Homo sapiens: one gene and its partners. The protein of the gene in region 1 purifies or fractionates together with the protein of each later gene. This does not show direct contact. Each region holds a gene or a part of one and is shown in the gene's direction. Other genes may lie near its edges. The genes, in order: SPON1, GID4, MKLN1 and RMND5A.

Region 1 (4,420 bases):
TAATTTCACCCAGCTTGAGCTTATTTCTACTAAACAGCACTGTTTTAAGTTGCTGTTCTCCTCAGCACCGTTACAGCCGAGGAGAACCTCTGCACACCTGTATTCAGTCAGCATGCAGTGGACTGGGGGGAGAGGAAGTAGAGGACTTCAGTTTTCTTTTAATAATGTGACCCAGAAACTGCACCCAGCACTTCTAAACACACTCCGTTGGCAAAAATTCAGTCATGTGGTCATACCTAGCTGCAAGGAAGGCTGGGAAATATAGCATTTAGCTGGGTAGCCACATGCCCAGCTAAAACTTGAAGAATTTATTTTTCAAAAAGATGAAACAAAGTAAATTTCTAAGGATCATATTAACGGTCTCTGTCACATATTTTCATGCATAGTCATGTAAAAACACAATATATCTTACTTTCTCAGTGAAAGGTCAGCTAGGTGGGTCAACTTGACAACATATAAACTGATGTTCCTGCTAAGAATCAGCAGAGGAAGCCAGATGCAGTGGCTCACACCTGTAACCTCAACACTTTGGGAGGCTGAGACAGGTGGATTGCTTAACCCCAGGAGTTCAAAATCAGCCTGGACAATATGGCAAAACCCATCTCTACAAAAAAAAAAAAAAAAAAAAATTAGCTGGCTGTGGTGTCTCATACCTGTAGACCCAGCTACTCAGGAGGCTGAGGCAGGAGGATCTCTTGAGCTGGAGAAGTTGAGGCTGCAGTGAGTGAAGATTGTGCCAGTGCACCCAGCCTGGGCGACAAAGTGAGACCCTGTCTCAAAAGAAGGGAAAAAGAGCAGAGGCAGGAGTGCTGGGGTGTGTATGTGCAAGCTTATGTTGTGGCTTGTTTTGTCTCATTCTCCTTTCTCAATAAAAGAGGAAGCAGCAAAGAATGAAAGGAATGAGGGTAAGGTAAATCAAGAAAACAAAGGGGTGGTGTGGGAAGAGAAAAAGAAAAATGAAAACCCACTGGGGTATACATTCAGAATGAAAATGAAAGAAAATATTTGAGTATGGCAGAGTCCCATTAGGATGGGACTACAGGGCTAGATACAAGAAGAGCCATGGAAAGCAAACATCACATAAGTCAAAATTAGTCCTTTGAAATTATACGTAAGATATAACCCAGATACCAGCTTCAACCTAGCCTTATCTAAACACCCTACCCCCAATATTCCTGTAAGTGAGGAATAGAAACGAATTGGCATGTATCAATAAGTCTAGCCCTTCTAGTTTCCCTCCAGCATTGGAAGAGAGCAATGTTTCCTCAGTTGAGTAGCAGATAAACCCTTGGTTTGCTCTGACATGCAAGTACAAAATCTTCATCATGTGATGGAGTAAGGGAGCTGAGAGGCTCATCTCATGCTCACTCAGGCACATGCATGCATTGAATGGAGTAGCAAGTGGCCCAAATCATTTAAAGCATTACATTCTCTGTTTTTTCTCCTCCAATAGTGTGCAGTTGTGTTTGATTTTTACCAAATGCACCTCTCTTGGAGCATCTATGGTGTCAGGAAGCTTGCTATATCACATAAAAAGCTTTTTGTGATGCTTGTCAGCTCCTGCTGGTATAAAATGCCCCACTTTTACAGAATGTTTTGGCAGGGATGGAGTTGGGGTGCAGATAGGACAGGGCAAGGAGTTAAGTGAGACCACTAGAAGTCCTTTGTGAGGTCTATGTAGAGCAGGCTTCTACCTTTCGCAGAATATTCATAAATTCCATGAAATGTTCAGGAAAACTTAAGGGACCTACCCACATCCACTGATTTTCTTGAGGCTAGGAGACCCATAGGAAATAACTTGAACCCTCTCTACAGTTGTGGTTGAGATATTTGCCAATATGTCTCATGGACTGGGTGAGAGAAACAGGGAAGAGTTCCAAGAACAAGTCACCATCTGTGGGGCAGGAGTGTGGGCAGGTGGGCACAGTCACAGCAGGATGAACCAAATGGTGATTCTAGGTGCTACAGGAAGCTCTTTTCTCCTCCTCTTCCTCCTCCTCCTCCTTGTCCTCCCCCCAACTCCTGCCAACACTATCCTTTGAATTTTCCAAATACACTAAGCTCATTCGCTCCCCAGGGCCTTCATCCTTGCTCTTCATGCCTGGGATGGTTGTCCTCAGATCTTTGCATGGCTGACTCCTTGTCTTTTAAGGGAATCTCTTTAAAGAGGCTGCTCTCACTACCAATTTATGTTTCCCGTCACTTTCGCCTGATTTTGTTTTCTTCATAGCCTTAAACACTCTCTGAAATTCTCTCGTTTATTGTCTGCCTCCTACAGCTAGAATACAAGCTTTATGAGAGCAAAGACTTTGTCTTTCTTATTTGCCATTTTATCTTCAATTCCCAGAACAGTGCCTGGGCATAGCAGGCATTAAATCATTATTTGTTGAAAAAAATAAAGTATCATTGAAGCCCCAAGAACCCTGGTGTGAGCTCTCTAAGAGAGCTGGATGGAGGAAGGGGAAGGTATTTCTCTCTCAGCCAGAGAGAAAGGTGAGCACCCAAGGGATGGCAGACAGGAGGCAAGGAGCTCCAGGTGGTGGCAGCAGAGAGAAAGGATGCCAGTGCCACAGGGGCGTTGGCCAGAGGCTGAGGGCAGATGGCCTGTGTCCAGAGTGCAGACCACTGGGAGGGAAGAGAGAGCAGTTGCATCATGGTGGAAGCTGAAACGCTGCTGCTGTGGCATGAAAAGCAGAGCAACAGCAGGCAAAAGGGCAGAGGCAAGGGGCTGCCAACCTCAGAAACTGGCTCTGAGAAACTGGCTCTGAGTATCTGGAGAAGTAGGCCTGAGGGGATTATTGAGCCATCAAACCTAGACATCAATTATTAAAGTGACATTCCCTAGAACCAGCACATTGTGGAGTCATTTGTAGTACTTTCCAAACCTAGCTATGCCTTTGGAGAGTGTAAAAACTAAACTAAAATTTAATTTAATAAAAAAACTTCCTGGGCCCCACCCTAACAAAAGGCTGGATTCCAGGAATCTTATATTCTTCTTTCTTTTTTCACTCTTTTAAAGGAAAATGATGAGACACAAAGAAAAGGTGGCCCTTTTCCTATGAGCATGCTTCCCCATCACCACCTCTCCTAGCCCCAGCCCCAGCCTCCCACACACTTTAGCACCTGGTCACATCATTGCCCTATCCTGTTACTATGGGACACACTCATTTAGTGACCAGTGGAATATCCTCAAAGCCAACATGACTGCAACATTTCCCGCTTGGCAGTAGGGTGATGGGGAGAAGAGAACCATGAGTTTTCCTTAGGTGGCCACAATCACAGACTGGCGAAGCTTGAGCCAGGGCTGACTTGCTTGTACTTCTCTGCCACCAAAGTCTGCCTACCATGTAACTTTCACACATCTGTCCAAGGTTCTGTCCTTTGGAATCAAGGAAAATAAGGTCTCCCCTGGGCCATATGTCAGCCCTTGAGATGTTTGTGAATAAATAGCTGTCATGGCTTCTCTTCTGACTAAAATGCCCCATTTCTTTAACCATTCTTTGTGGGTTGCAGTTGCTTGCTCCCTTGTACTTTGTGCCCCAGATGTGGTCTGTTAGGGGCAGGACATGATAGAATGATTATCTCCTTGTCCTGGACATTGTGGTTGTGTGAAGCTTGCCAGGTCTTGTGTTTGCTATTTTGGCAGCTGTGCCGTAGTCTGGAATCACACTGAGCTTGCAGCCAACTCAAATTCTTGCAATTTTCTGGAAGGCCTGCTTCCCTCTTTAACCTAGACTGGTGAAAATGGTCCTTGAACATAAAATTTGACATGGTTTATCGTTAGATTTAATCCAGCATGTTTGGATCCATCCCTGTAGCTGTCAGCCATTCATGAATCTGTATTTGGTCCCTGAGTGATTTATTCACATAATCTAATTTTGGATTATGCACAGTGTTGATAAGAAGGTCTTGTAAGTCTTTATCAATGAAGTTGATAAGAATATTGAGCAACTCAGAGTCTAGGATAGAGCCCTCTGACATTCCTTAGAGTCTTTCTCTAAAGCTGATATTTAGCTAAATAGTTTTGAAGTCAAGAGATCTGCTGTCATCCCAATGACATTTACATACCAACTGCCACCCCCAGCATAAGCCACCTCAGTTTAGTTCTGAATACTGTTTCCTGAGCCTGCTGGTGATTCTTGTAGTTTAGGCAGAGTGTTTTCTTTCTTTGCTTCAAAATTAGTCAGGACTCTTTCCACTGCAAGTGATAGGAACAAAGTCAACCTAACTAAAGCAGAAAAGGGAATGCACTGATTCCCATATTTGCAAAGCCCAGGGGTGGCTCTTGCTTCAGGCATAAATGGGTCTAGTGACTCAAATGGGGTCATTCCATCTCTCTCTCTCTCTCTGTCCCCCGTTCCCTCCTTCGCTCTATCTTTTTGTCCCTCGCTTCTACCTTCTCTGTCTTGCTCCTTCCATC
Region 2 (4,420 bases), on another chromosome or scaffold:
TAAAGCAGACTACTCCTGAGCATTGCTACTGTATAGGGAACATAAAACAGGCAGTTTCAGTGTGTCCTGTTGAGAAGTGTACAGATTCACAAATGTTTTAAAGAAAAGTTTATAAGTACATCATAATTGTCACAACCAACACTATTGATTTTATTTTTAATCCTTTTTGGGGGAAAAAATAATAAGAATATAGCTGCCACCCTCATCATAAGTTTAACAGTTTCTGAGATAAGCATCAGTCCTATAAAAAATGAGCTTTTAAGTTCTTTAAGCCTCTTAGTTAATTGGAACAATGAAAAGTTACTGACTGGTCGCGGTGGCTCATGCCTGTAATCGCAACACTTTGGGAGCCTGAGGTGTGCAGATCACTTGAGGTAGGGAGACCAGCCTGGCCAACATGGTGAAACCCCATCTCTACTAAACATAAAAAAAAAAAATTAGCCGGGCATGGTGGCACAGACCTGTAGTTCCAGGTACTTGGGAGTCTGAGGCACAGAGAATCACTTGAACCAGAGAGGCAGAGGTTGCAGTGAGCCAAGATCACCATGCACTCCAACCTGGGCAACAGAGCAAGACCCTGTCTCAAAAAAAAAAAAAAAGAAAGAAAAAAAAGGGGAAGTGACCATCTAGTTTCCAGCAGAAGTACCTGCTGTGCAGAGTATTTTATTTTCTTTGAACCAAGTTTTTAAACCTCAGAACTCCTGGGACTTTAGAAAGCAAGGAGGAGCATCCTTTCTTTTCCATTAGCAAGGAAACAGGAAGTGGAAGGAGGTAGCTGGACTGGCCCTCCGAATGCTGGGAATGCCCAGGCTGGACCTAGCTGCAGGGGGCCTCTGGCCTTTGTCAGCTCTCATGGTCTGATGATCCAGCAGTATTTGGACAGAGTGCTGTGCTGGATGGGGCAGTGGAAAGGAGCTGGGGTGGCATTCTTCTTCTGCCCCTTCCTGCATCTGTGACCTTTAACTTCTTTCAGTGTCCTCATCTGCGAAGTTGAGAATTAAAAATTCCTGCTCCAGGCTGGGTGCTGTGGCTCACACCTGTAATCCCAACATTTTGGGAGGTCAAAGCAGGAGGATCACTTGGGGCCAGGAATTCAAGACCAGCCTGGACAGCATAGCAAGACCTTGTCGCTACAAATAATTTTTAATAAATTAGCCAGGCATGGTGTTGTGTGCCTGTAGTCCTAGCTACTCAGAAGACTGAGGCTGGAGTATCGCTTGAGGCTAGGATTTGAAGGCAGCAATGTGCTGTGATCATGCCTGTGAATAGCCACTGCACTCCAGCCTGGGCAACCTAGGAAGATCCTCTCTCTTTAAAAAAAAAAAAAATTGGGGTCGGGCGTGGTGGCTCACACCTGTAATCCCAGCACTTTGGGAGGCTGAGGTGGATGGATCACCTGAGGTCAGGAGTTCAAGACCAGCCTGGTCAACATGGTGAAACCCCATCTTTACTAAAAATATAAAAATTAGCTGGGCATGTTGGCAGGCACCTGTAATTCCAGCTACTCAGGAGGCTGAGGCAGGAGGATCGCTTGAACCCGGGAGGCGGAGGTTGCAGTGAGCCAAGATTGCACCATTGCGCTCCAGCCTGAGCAACAAGAGCGAAACTTTGTCTCAAAAAAAAAAAAAAAAAAAAAAATCCCTGCTCTGTCTAAGACAATCAGTGGACTTGTTCTGGGGGTAAGGAAAGAATGTTAGAGAAAATGACAGACTCAAATATGGTACTAATATGTGATTCTCTTGTAAAGTCCTGATGAGCCTCAGTCTTAAGACAAGTTTCTGGCTCCTGGTTCCTATCTGCTTTTCTATTAGAAGCTTAACTGATTAAGGATCTCCTATGAAGTTTGTTGTTGAGACCAAAGGTATTTCTTCTTTAACTCGAGAATTGTATCAAATCAAGTAGGAGTAGAAGTGATAGCAAAATACAGGATTCCAGCCTTTGGGTTTGTGGTAGGAGAAAAGATACTAAAACAGAATATGCTCAACTCTCAGGTAGCCAAATACATTAGTTAACTGGGTGCAGAACATAAACACTGAATTTCATAAGGAAACCAGCAAGTGTGTAAGGCATTGGAATGTTAACGCTGACTCCAAAACCAGTCATTTGGGTGATAACAAGCTGCACAGAAATGGTAAGTAGCATTCGAAATCTTGAAGAAGTATACAGAAATGCTAATGGCATTGAGCTCTCCATCGGGAACAAGTAGCCCTTCCTTTAGGAAGCCCCCGTGAGTCGAGAGCAGCAGTCAGGCTCCTTTGAGGAGGGGGCACTGACAATGGCCCTTCAATGGGGGCTAACCCAAGGGGAGCCCTAGGCTCTTAACAGAACCTCTGCAGATGGCGTGGCCTCGATGAGCACATACCCTCCCCAGAGTTGCCTGTTCCTGGTCCAGCAATAAATAGACCACGTTATGCTGCTGCAGGGGTGTTGCGTTAAAGCAAGTCCTGCTCAGGCCTTAGATGTAGAAGAATTCTTTTTAAATAATGTTTTTTAGTAGCTTTATTGAGATAATTCACATACCATACATTTCACCCATTTGAAGTATACAGTTCATTGGTTTTTAGTGTATTCACAAAGTTGTGCAACTATGTGATAACTTTTTTTTTTTTTTGAGATGGAGTCTCGCTCAGTCACCCAGGCTGGAGTGCAGTGGTGCAATCTCGGCTCACTGCAAGCTCCGCCTCCTGGGTTCACGCCATTCTCCTGCCTCAGCCTCCCGAGTAGCTGGGACTACAGGTGCCCGCCACCACACCCGGCTAATTTTTTTGTATTTTTAGTAGAGATGGGGTTTCACCGTGTTAGCCAGGATGGTCTCGATCTCCTGACCTCATGATCCGCCTGTCTCGGCCTCCCATAGCGCTGGGATTACATGTGTGAGCCACCACGCCTGGCCGATAACTTTTTTTTTTTGAGACAGAGTCTCAGTCACCCAGGCTGGAGTGCAGTGGTGTGATCTCACCTTACCACAACCTCTGCCTCCCAAGTTCAAGCGATTCTCCTGCCTCAGCCTCCCGAGTAGCTGGGATTACAGGCGTGCGCCACCCTGCCCAACTAACTTTTATTTTTAGTAGAGACAGGGTTTCGCCATGTTGGCCAGACTGGTCTCGAACTCCTGACCTCAAATGTCCACCCTCCTTGGCCTCCCAAAGTGTTGGGATTACAGGCGTGAGCCAACGCACCCAGCCTGATAACTTTTAAAATTATAAGTCTAGTATATGGTTGCCGTAGATAATAGTAAAATGCAGAAAACTACAATGAATCTTTGAATAAATTTTGTACCTGTATTTGGGTTTTTTTTCTTTTCCATTTATGTTTGTTAAAATATCAATTTTTTATTTTTATTTTTTGTTTTTGAGGAAGAGTCTTGCTCTGTCACCCGGGCTGGAGTGCAGTTGTGTGATCTCAGCTCACTGCAACTTCCACCTCCCAGGTTCAAGCAATTCCCATGCCTCAGCCTCCCGAGTAGCTGGAATTACAGGCATGTGCCACCACACCTGGCTAATTTTTATATTTTTAGTAGAAATGGGGTTTTACCATGTTGGCCAGGCTGGTCTTGAACTCCTGACCTCAGATGAACCACCCACCTTGGCCTCCCAAAGTGCTGGGACTACAAGCATGAGCCACCGTGCCTGGCAAAAATATCAAATTTTTAATTTATTTTAATTAAACTATAATTTGGGTTTTAGTCATAGTAGTTGCCTTCCTCACGTATACAGTATGGAAAAGTATCTACTAAAATGGAGATAGGCCAGGCACAGTGGCTCATGCCTGTAATCCCAGCACTTTGGGAGGCTGAGGCAGCTGGATCGCCTGAGGTCAGGAGTTTGAGACCAGCTTGGACAACATGGTGAAACCCCATCTCTACTAAAAATACAAAAATTAGCTGGACATGGTGGCGGGCACCTGTAATCCCAGCTACTCAGGAGGCTGAGGCAAGAGAATCGCTTGAACCCAGGAGGCAGAGTTTGTGGTGAGTTCAGATCATGCCACTGGACTCCAACCTCGGCAACAGAGTGAGACTTCGTGTCAAAAAAAAAAAAAAAAGGAGATAAGTGTCAAAAAAAAAAAAAAGGAGCTAAATGGCCTCTTAGCTACCTCACATTCACAAACAAGCACAGCTTTTTTGTTTGTTTGTTTTAATTTTTATTTTAGGCTTGGGTGTACATGCGCAGGTTTGATCTATAGATAAACTTATGTCACGGTTTACCTATGTAACTGTTGTGGAGATTATTTTGTCACCCAGGTATTAAGCCTAGTACTGAATAGTTATTTCTTCTGCTCCTCTCCCTTCTCCTACCCTCTACCCTCAAGTAGGCCCCATTGTCTGTTCTTCCCTTCTTTTTTTTTTTGAGATGAAGTCTCGCTCTGTTGCCCAGGCTTGAGTGCAGTGGTGCAATATCTGCTCACTGCAACCTCTGCC
Region 3 (4,420 bases), on another chromosome or scaffold:
AACTTTTCTCCTTTTAATTTGTATTTAAATATGTATTCATAGCTGTGATTGGCCTTAAGTCTTTTTTCTTCTGATTTGGATTTCAGGGTTGTGCCACTGATAAATAATTTCAGTCTCTTTCAGTGTTCTGATGTAGACTAAATTCTAAAGTAATTTTTTGCTGCTTGTACATTTGATAAAATTTACCTGTTAAATCATCTAATTCTGGTGGCATTTATTTGGGGGTAGACATGTGCACATTTTTAATTTATCTTACAGTGTTTTTATTAACTAAGGAAATCTTATGGTGGCATGGGTCATCTGTTTCGTTTTACTGTTGTAGCCTTAGCACCATGCTAGTCATATAAAAGATGCCCAGAAAATTCGTTGAATGAATCCTTATAAGGTTGAATAGTGCTTTTACTTTGCTAAAGTTTTATTTGAACTGTGTTAATATTTTTCTTCTTCTTTTTGTTTTTTCTCCTTAAAGTTCCACTCTTGTCCTGGGGACCCAGCTTTAACTTTAGCATCTGGTATGTTGAACTTAGTGGCATTGATGATCCTGATATAGTACAACCTTGTCTCAACTGGTATAGCAAGGTAGGACTGTGTTTTAAATCCTGACTTTAATGCCTATAAAAGGAGAAATATGTCAATCTCTTATCTTCATTGAGAATAATTTAAAATATTCAAAATAATAATAACAACAGTTAGCTAACATTTTATTAAGCACTTCCAGTCTGCCAGCTTTTAAGGAATCCTGATAACTCACTTAGTCATTATCACTCTATGAGACAGGTGCACTTATTATCCCCATTAGTTTATAGATGAAGAAATGAAGAACAGAGAGATTAAATAGTTTGCCTAGGATCACACAATTGTAAAGTGTTTGAGCCAGTATATGAATTCAGGCAGTTTGGCTCCACAGTCTGCTTTTATGTTATTATACCCATTTGACTCTGAATTTTGTTTTTTCACTTGTATTCATATAAATACTTAAAACATAGTTTTTAGTGGGATAGTTTTGCAGCCTAATGGAAAATTTAAGATGTGGATGTGATTTAGACTCCTAAAGTAGTCAACAGGGTTAAAAAATACTGCTGTTTAATATAACTGTAATATATATTGTTACATGGTAGTTATGATAAGTCTTTTTTAGAGGCCAAGAGTAAGTTAATTATAGTTAACTAATTATAATTAAGTTGTTAATTAATTATAGTTAATTATAACGTGTAAGGATTAGGTGTTTAATGACCTTTTATTAGTTAAGTCAGCTATCAACTGATTTGTTTCAAATCTTATACATCTTCCTAAACACATTATTTTCTTGCCTTATTAAAGGGTCATGCCTATAAGTAAATCATTGTTGTTTGATTATCATGCAGGCTTCCATGTCATCTGTTTGTTTGAATAGTGGTATACTTAGGAAGTTTGAGGTAGTCCCAGAACATATTCCTGAAGTTGAGATTTTTTTAAAAAAATCCTTTTTATAAGATTGTATTTTTGGCATCTATCCTATTAGGGGAAAATTTTAATAAATTAAGTGCCTGCTTTTTGGATTCCAGTTAATTGAGATGTCTACTTTATAGCTGCTTAATAGATGAGGTAGTTCAGGCTTAGAAAACAATTAAATTGGGCCGGGCGCAGTGGCTCACACCTGTAATCCCAGCACTTTGGGAGACCAAAGTGGGCAGATTGCCTGAGGTCAGGAGTTCAAGACCATCCTGACCAACATGGTGAAACCCCGACTCTACTAAAAATACAAAAATTAGCTGGGCGTGGTAGCGCGTGCCTGTAAGCTCAGCTACTTAGGAGGCTGAGGCAGAATTGCTTGAACCTGGGAGGCGGAGGTTGCAGTGAGCTGAGATTATGCCGCTACAGTCCAGCCTGGGAGACAGAGCAAGACCCTGTCTCAAAAAAAGAAAGAAAAAAAAAAAGATTAAATGTCTCTTTTTGATGATTTTTGAGTCATAAAATGTGTTTGTAAATTTGAAATATCTGTATACTTGATACTTGTCATTCAAGTAATAGTTTATTTTTAAAAACCAAAAATAGCATAATATAATTTATGTGGATTATTTAATGTTCTTTTGTGCTCTCAGTACCTGCATTGTAATGGGATTAATAGATGCTATGGAGTTATAATTTTTACAGTATTAAGTGGAGTTTAAGAAATAGATGTTCTCCCTTTCTTCAAAGTTGAGGCTCTGGAATTAGGTTTGGTTTAATAACTTTTGGCTACATATTTTGTGACCTTGAGCAAGTTATTGGAACAGGCCAAGCTTTAGTTTTGCTAGTTAAAAGAGCCAAATAATGATACCTAATGAATCAGGTTAGTAAACTGCTTGGCACATAGTGTTAATAAATGCTCAGTGTAGATTAGTTATTTTTACTGTTGTTATTGTTTCCTACAGTATCATCTAACCAAATCTCTTCTTTCCATACTTACTCTGTGTTCTAGTAGTACCGTGAACAGGAAGCTATTCGCCTTTGCCTAAAACACTTCAGACAACACAACTATACAGAAGCTTTTGAGTCACTGCAAAAGAAAACCAAGATTGCACTGGAACATCCCATGTTAACAGATATTCATGACAAGCTGGTGTTGAAGGGTGATTTTGATGCTTGCGAAGAGTTGATTGAAAAGGCTGTAAATGGTATGAAACTTAGATTGGTTATTAGGGTAAATTCAAGTACATACGGGAAACTTTTTCTCAAAAATAATATAGGCTTATGCCAGTTATTACTGTAATTTTTTTTCTTGGTTTTTTACTCGGTTAAAGATTGTTATCTCTTTGGATTAGGGACTTCTTTCATGTAAAATAGATCCATGATGTAATGAGACTTAAAAAATTGAAATGTACTTGAACTCACATATAAATTTAAGTTGTCATCTTGGGAAACCATGCACTTACAAATGATTAACTAGCATTAAACTGTATCAGAAATAATATTTTGATATTGGTAGCCAATATTCATTAACAGTGTAGTTTTGAGGAGAAGGGGGGCTAGATAATAAAAAATGTTATTAGTAAACAATTATATATAAGGAACAAGGAGATTTGTATTGAAAACAACTTCCTTGTGGTGTGAATGCTATATAATTGCTGATTTTCTTGTGTGACCTGTAGTCTGGCTTTGAAAGAAATGTGAATAGTTGAACATCTGTATTATCTCCCAGGGTATTGGCTTTGGAGGGTAACACTCATTTGGATTTTTAAGGTCTGATGTGTTTTGTTATTTAAACTAAAAAGGGACTCTGTTGTTGCTTATAGTATGACTTTTTTTTTTAATCTTCCTCAGTAACTTTCATAGTGACAAACAACAGAATAGTTGCACAATATAAAACTTGTGGAATTGAATTTGGTGCATCCTTTATAGGAAGAAATAAGAAATAATAGATTATTCAGTGGTTTGCTCTCATTTTAATTTTATCACTGTTATTATCGTCTATTATTAGGTATTCATATTTATCAGATATTGGGTAGCTAAAAAAAAACCAGACTTGTACTGCCTTGAGTTTATAAATTTAAAGTTAACTTAAAATGAATTGCTTTGAGCTCCACTTTTTGAAATATGACAAATCTGCTTCTAAGCCTTGTGCATTGTTATTGCTTACTTGATTGATGATGATACTTGCAAATAAATGATAGGTATGTTTGAAATTGAGTATATTTTGGAGTATAAACAAACAAATAACTAATCTCTTAACAGACTTTAAAATGCTACCAATAAAAAAAAAATATATATATATATATATATATGCCATTTCTAGGAGTGAATTCTGTGGGTTTTTTTTAACCTCATAAGATGAGGGAGGCATAGGTAATTTTAGGGCTTTTTTGTTTGTTTCAGATATTTATCAGTAAGGCATTTGATACCATTTTGTGAAGGGAAAGCAAAACAACAGCCACAGGCAACTCTACAGTTAATAAGCTAAAAACAGTTATATTTTAAAGGTCTCTTTAGTGACGTACTCAGTTGGTTAAGATTAGCTGATAAAAATCTTGTGCAGTTTTGATATCTACAGAGACTTAACTTATCCTTTGGCTCTAGAAAGGAACCAAGTTTAGAGAAATTAGTAGTTGCTCAATTCTTGAAACTTACAGCCACATCATAGTTTTTGTACTGTGAATACTATGGGCTTTCTAAACTGGCCTGGAACACTGTTAGTTAATAAACATTCCTTTCAGGGTTGTTCTCTTTGCTTCTGATCTCATTGATGATGATTTGTTGGACAAATAAGGAAGTAAACAGTGCAGAGTTTTTTGGCTTCTGCTCTATTAAAAACATAGCAGAGAAGGACAAGAAGTTCCTGCCTGCTAAATAGGAAGATCTAGGGAATCAAAAGAGTCTCTGTCAAGCTTCTTGTAATGGAGGATACAAAAGCTACTTTTAGTATTTTTAGTATATTACTTAGTATGATCTTTAAGTATTTTCT
Region 4 (4,420 bases), on another chromosome or scaffold:
ATGTGTGAAACAAGGTTTTTTTTCATTTACCTCAACCAGAAGAACGTATCACAATAGATTTAATGCAGAGTAAACTATAAGAATCCAGCTGTCTTTCTGTTAAGGTAGGCATTCAGGAGAGTTGTGAGAGTTTGGAACAGTGCCACTCTTCTCACACATATATTTTTGTTTTGGAAACTGTAGTTATTTTTTTATAAGAATGTTTGCAATAATGGCATGGTATTTTATTTTTACATGAACTAATCGGCACCTTTTATGTTTCTCATTTTAATTTCTAATGTATTAAAGATATAATCCACAAAAAGAAAAGCTCTTTGAGATCCTTAATACTTAAGCATATAAAGGGGTCCTGAAACCAAAACATTTTAAGAAACTGTTGTAAGAAAATAACTCTTTTTTAGCTCTTCTATTCATTTAATTCCACAAATGTTTTGCATACCTGCTATGTGCCAGGCACTGTGGGCACTGTGTTGGATATGAAGATGAATAAGGTGCATTCCACAGGGTGCTCCATCCTAGCGTAGGAGTGGACAGATGCAATTAGCTATAATGTGAGGCGCTGATGCCATCAAGTTCTCTGAGGAAGACTCTAAAGTGGGAATGTACATGCAGAAAGTTTACTGACATCAGCACCTGTGGGAGAATGAAAACAGCAGGATTGGGCAGAGAGGAAAGTTGGACTGTATTAGAGTGGCAACAAGGTGTCTCCCATCCGTGAGGAGCTCTGGAGCTGCTGTGGGCCCGTGGAGTTGTCCCAAATTGGGCCTATAGGGCTGGGGTTTTGTACCCTCACATGGAGCAATTGCTGGATGTGACTCTGGTCAGATGACTCTCTTCAACTGAGGACAGTCCTGAAGAGACGGACACAGCTGAGAGTTGGCTGCCAACACTTCCAGATCTGAGAAATGAGTGCTTCCACCCTGGACAGGGGTGATCTGGGGATAAGAGGAACTATGCAAAAAAAATGTTTCAGGAGCAAGCATGTCATTTGACTGATAAGCTGAGCCCATTAAATCCAGTTGTTTTGTGCAATATAAAACCTTTTTTGGCACTAATGTAAGATTATTATGAAATTCTTTATATTTTACTTTTTGAAACAGGGTCTCATTCTGTTGCCCAGGTTGGAGTGCAGTGGCACGATCGTGGCTCACTGCAGCCTCAACCTCCTGGCATCCTCCCACCTCAGCCTGCTCAGTAGCTGGGACTCTAGGCACATGCTACCATACCTGGCTAATGGCTAATTTTTATATCTTTTGTAGAGACGGGGGTCTCACTGTGTTTCCCAGGCTGGTCTCAAACTCTCAAACTTAGGTAATCCTCCCACCTTGGCCTCCCAAAGTGCTGCAATTACAGGAGTGAGCCACCACCATCTGCTGTTATTAAATTCTCTAAAAACCTTATTCTCAATTCTGTACTTCTTTCCTGTGGATTGAAAATGGTGTGTAAATCAGCACCATCTGCAGACCACATTTTGAGTATCATTGTTCTAATTAGCGTATACCTTGGAGCACATTTTGTAAGAAAAATAAGTCTGGTGGTATATGGTCTGTAAGGAAGGGAATAGGAAAGGAAGTTATGTCTTGTATATTGCTGAGTGAAGAATTTTGTGCAAGAACATCTCTTTTTCCTTCAAACTCAGATGCTAAAACTACTGTATTTGGAAGAGTGTAGTAGTTCTTAATTCCTGCTCTTCATTTGAATTAATTGGTTCTCCAAAGCTGCTTTCTTTTTTAAAATGCATGTTTTAAAACTTTATTTTTCTATTTTCTGAGGAAGTAAGCTAAAGTTAAATTACCCTAGCAGATGAGTTTTTTTTTTTTAACGTTTGCGTTCTTTAACTGCATTTACCCCCATATTGGTGAGGTTTATTTAGAAAATTTAGAGTTTTATTTTTTGTTTTGTTTTTTAACTGGGATTGGTTTTCAGTAACTTCAGGAAATATACCAGTGGGCCTGGGGAAGAAGGGGAGGGAAAACAAGTTATTTCTCTTCTAGTGGAAATGGCTGGATTTACTTTTAGCAGAACAGAAAGCTCTCACCCTGTCCAGTGGCCAGGGTCTGCAGCACATAGAGTCTGGAGAAATTGATGTCTCCTTGGACCAAGCGGCCTGACCCCTGGCCTGGCACTGACGTTTCCTCTTCTGCTCTCCCAGTTTCTCAGCAGGTTGTGTGGCGCTGCCAGCTTTAATTAACATCAAAGCCGTGATTGAACAGAGGCAGTGTACTGGAGTTTGGAACCAGAAAGATGAATTACCTGTGAGTTCCATTTTCTATTGGCTATTTACTTTTACTGCCATTAGAAGAATATGGCATCTTTAAATGTTCATCTTACCTTTTAACCAGGAAACATTGTAGCCATTTGACAGGAGTTCTTTTATGGATATATAAAAGATTAAACAATACAAATGAAGAGCCTAGTACATTTTGGGGACCCTGGAGGAGGAGTATTATAATTTTGACTTGAAGTGCCTTTGAAAGCTGGTGAAGGGAAACATCAGAAGTGGGGAGGGCTGTACATACAGTAGCAGGCAGTGTGTTCTGCAGTGCAGTTCACAGACCACTCCTGTGATTGTTTTTCTAATATAAACGCAAATTTAATTGGTTTTACTTTTGTCTTAACTATTGCTGTCGATAAGATCACGAGTTTGTGCTGGTTACATTTGCCAATAGAATAAGTATAGAGCTCTTAAAGGTCGTAACACCTGCAGTCATCAGTGGGTCTCTAGTACTGTATTTCTACTGCTCTCATGGAAAGGACCATGGTTTTAAACATCAGCACGATCACTTGCCAACTCTAGAACTTCTCTAAGCAGTAGTGTATTCATCTCTAAGACAAGCACCAGCTTTCTCTTTATGGGGCTGCTGAAGGCTAGAGATAACATAAGCATGCTTAGAATAAGACGGGATACATGGTAGGCACTCAAATTGTGGCTGCCATGGTGCAGTTATGATGTGAAGTGGCGAAGGTCATTGTATGTATGTTTCCACCAGGTCTCTGACAGGCACTGAGGCTCTGGCCTGGAATTGTCGTTCCTGTCATGATTGTGTCACAGACCCTGAAAAGCTAACATACGCATTTGTTTTTTTGCCCGTTTTATACCACACCTGTACACGGGTTTATTTGCAGTTACCTTGTTCTTCCAGCAGGTAACCCTGTCAGTTGGTTGCCCCAGCTTCTCCTCAAAGATCTTTTCTGATTAAAGGCACAGGTGCAGTCCTGGTCCTGAGTGTGGTCAGGACACAAGTAGCACTCCTGCTCTACTGCCGCTAACTTGAACAAGTGAAAAGAACTTGAGCCTTCACTTGTTTTGTGGAGGCAGGTGCCTGGCATCTGGCAGTTTCCCATTTATGTTGTAAGCATCTCTGACATGCACTAAGAGCAGACTGAAATCTGAATTCACCTAAAGACTGTGTGTCAAGCCAGTAAAGCCATTAGAGGTGGTGATCAGGTCATTGTTTGTCAGACTTGTTTTTACACTTTGTCAGCTTTCTTGAAAATAATCTTGAAGGCTAATTTAACACTTTGAATCACTAAGACTGTCCATCTGAGTTAGAAGAGTGCTATAGAAAGTTACATTCAGGTGAATAGATCTGATCAATGTTCTTTGCTGCACAGTGTATATTACCATGTGGATGGTTTTGTGAAATATGACTTCAGCTTTTTTACTTTTTTTTTTTTTTTTAACAGATTGAAGTGGACCTTGGTAAAAAGTGCTGGTATCACTCTATATTTGCCTGCCCCATTCTTCGTCAGCAAACAACAGATAACAATCCACCCATGAAATTGGTCTGTGGTCATATTATATCAAGAGATGCCCTGAATAAAATGTTTAATGGTAGCAAGTAAGTGTCTGACTTTTAAAAAATGTTAGCAAATAAATTTTGTTTTGGAACTTGGTAGGAGGATAAGAAGTGATGAGGATTAAAAAAATGTAGCTAGATTTAGAACTAAATAAATTTCTTAACTATTCATTTGGCAAAGTTGGTGGTATCTGATTTGAGTATTTTTAATGTGTCTATGGATTTGGTGATTAGATTTATAAGCATGTCTTTAACTTAACTTTTGGGGTAGGTGATAGATTTTCCCCTTTTTTATACAAATGGTCGCATACTAAAAAATGTTCTGTACTTTGCTGTTTTCACTTAGTGATGTATTTTGGAGATCTTTTTCTGTGCTGCAGAAACAGCCCTCATTATTTTTTTGTTAAAGCTGCAGTATATTCTACTGTATAGAAATATGATTGGGTAGCCAGTTCCCTATTGATGAACATTTGTTTCTCTAAACAGTGCTAAGTGAAGGCCAGGTGTGGTGGCTTATGCCTGTAATCCCAGCACTGTGGGAGGCCGAGGCAGGCGGATCACGAGGTCAGGAGATTGAGACCATCCTGGCTAACACGGTGAAATCCCATCTCTACTAAAAA

The links.
Region 2: the proteins of SPON1 (region 1) and GID4 purify together in Homo sapiens (affinity purification with mass spectrometry; one large-scale study listed by BioGRID and IntAct). This does not show direct contact.
Region 3: the proteins of SPON1 (region 1) and MKLN1 purify together in Homo sapiens (affinity purification with mass spectrometry; one large-scale study listed by BioGRID and IntAct). This does not show direct contact.
Region 4: the proteins of SPON1 (region 1) and RMND5A purify together in Homo sapiens (affinity purification with mass spectrometry; one large-scale study listed by BioGRID and IntAct). This does not show direct contact.

The regions. Positions count from the first base shown.
Region 1 is NC_000011.10:13,968,608-13,973,027, forward strand, and holds part of SPON1 (spondin-1 precursor), read left to right. Parts: intron 1-4,420. UniProt on the Homo sapiens protein: Cell adhesion protein that promotes the attachment of spinal cord and sensory neuron cells and the outgrowth of neurites in vitro. May contribute to the growth and guidance of axons in both the spinal cord and the PNS.
Region 2 is NC_000017.11:18,045,308-18,049,727, forward strand, and holds part of GID4 (glucose-induced degradation protein 4 homolog), read left to right. Parts: intron 1-4,420.
Region 3 is NC_000007.14:131,396,798-131,401,217, forward strand, and holds part of MKLN1 (muskelin), read left to right. Parts: intron 1-469; coding exon 470-579; intron 580-2,440; exon of another isoform or gene 2,441-2,443; coding exon 2,444-2,636; intron 2,637-4,420. UniProt on the Homo sapiens protein: Component of the CTLH E3 ubiquitin-protein ligase complex that selectively accepts ubiquitin from UBE2H and mediates ubiquitination and subsequent proteasomal degradation of the transcription factor HBP1.
Region 4 is NC_000002.12:86,767,871-86,772,290, forward strand, and holds part of RMND5A (E3 ubiquitin-protein transferase RMND5A), read left to right. Parts: intron 1-2,152; coding exon 2,153-2,255; intron 2,256-3,687; coding exon 3,688-3,842; intron 3,843-4,420.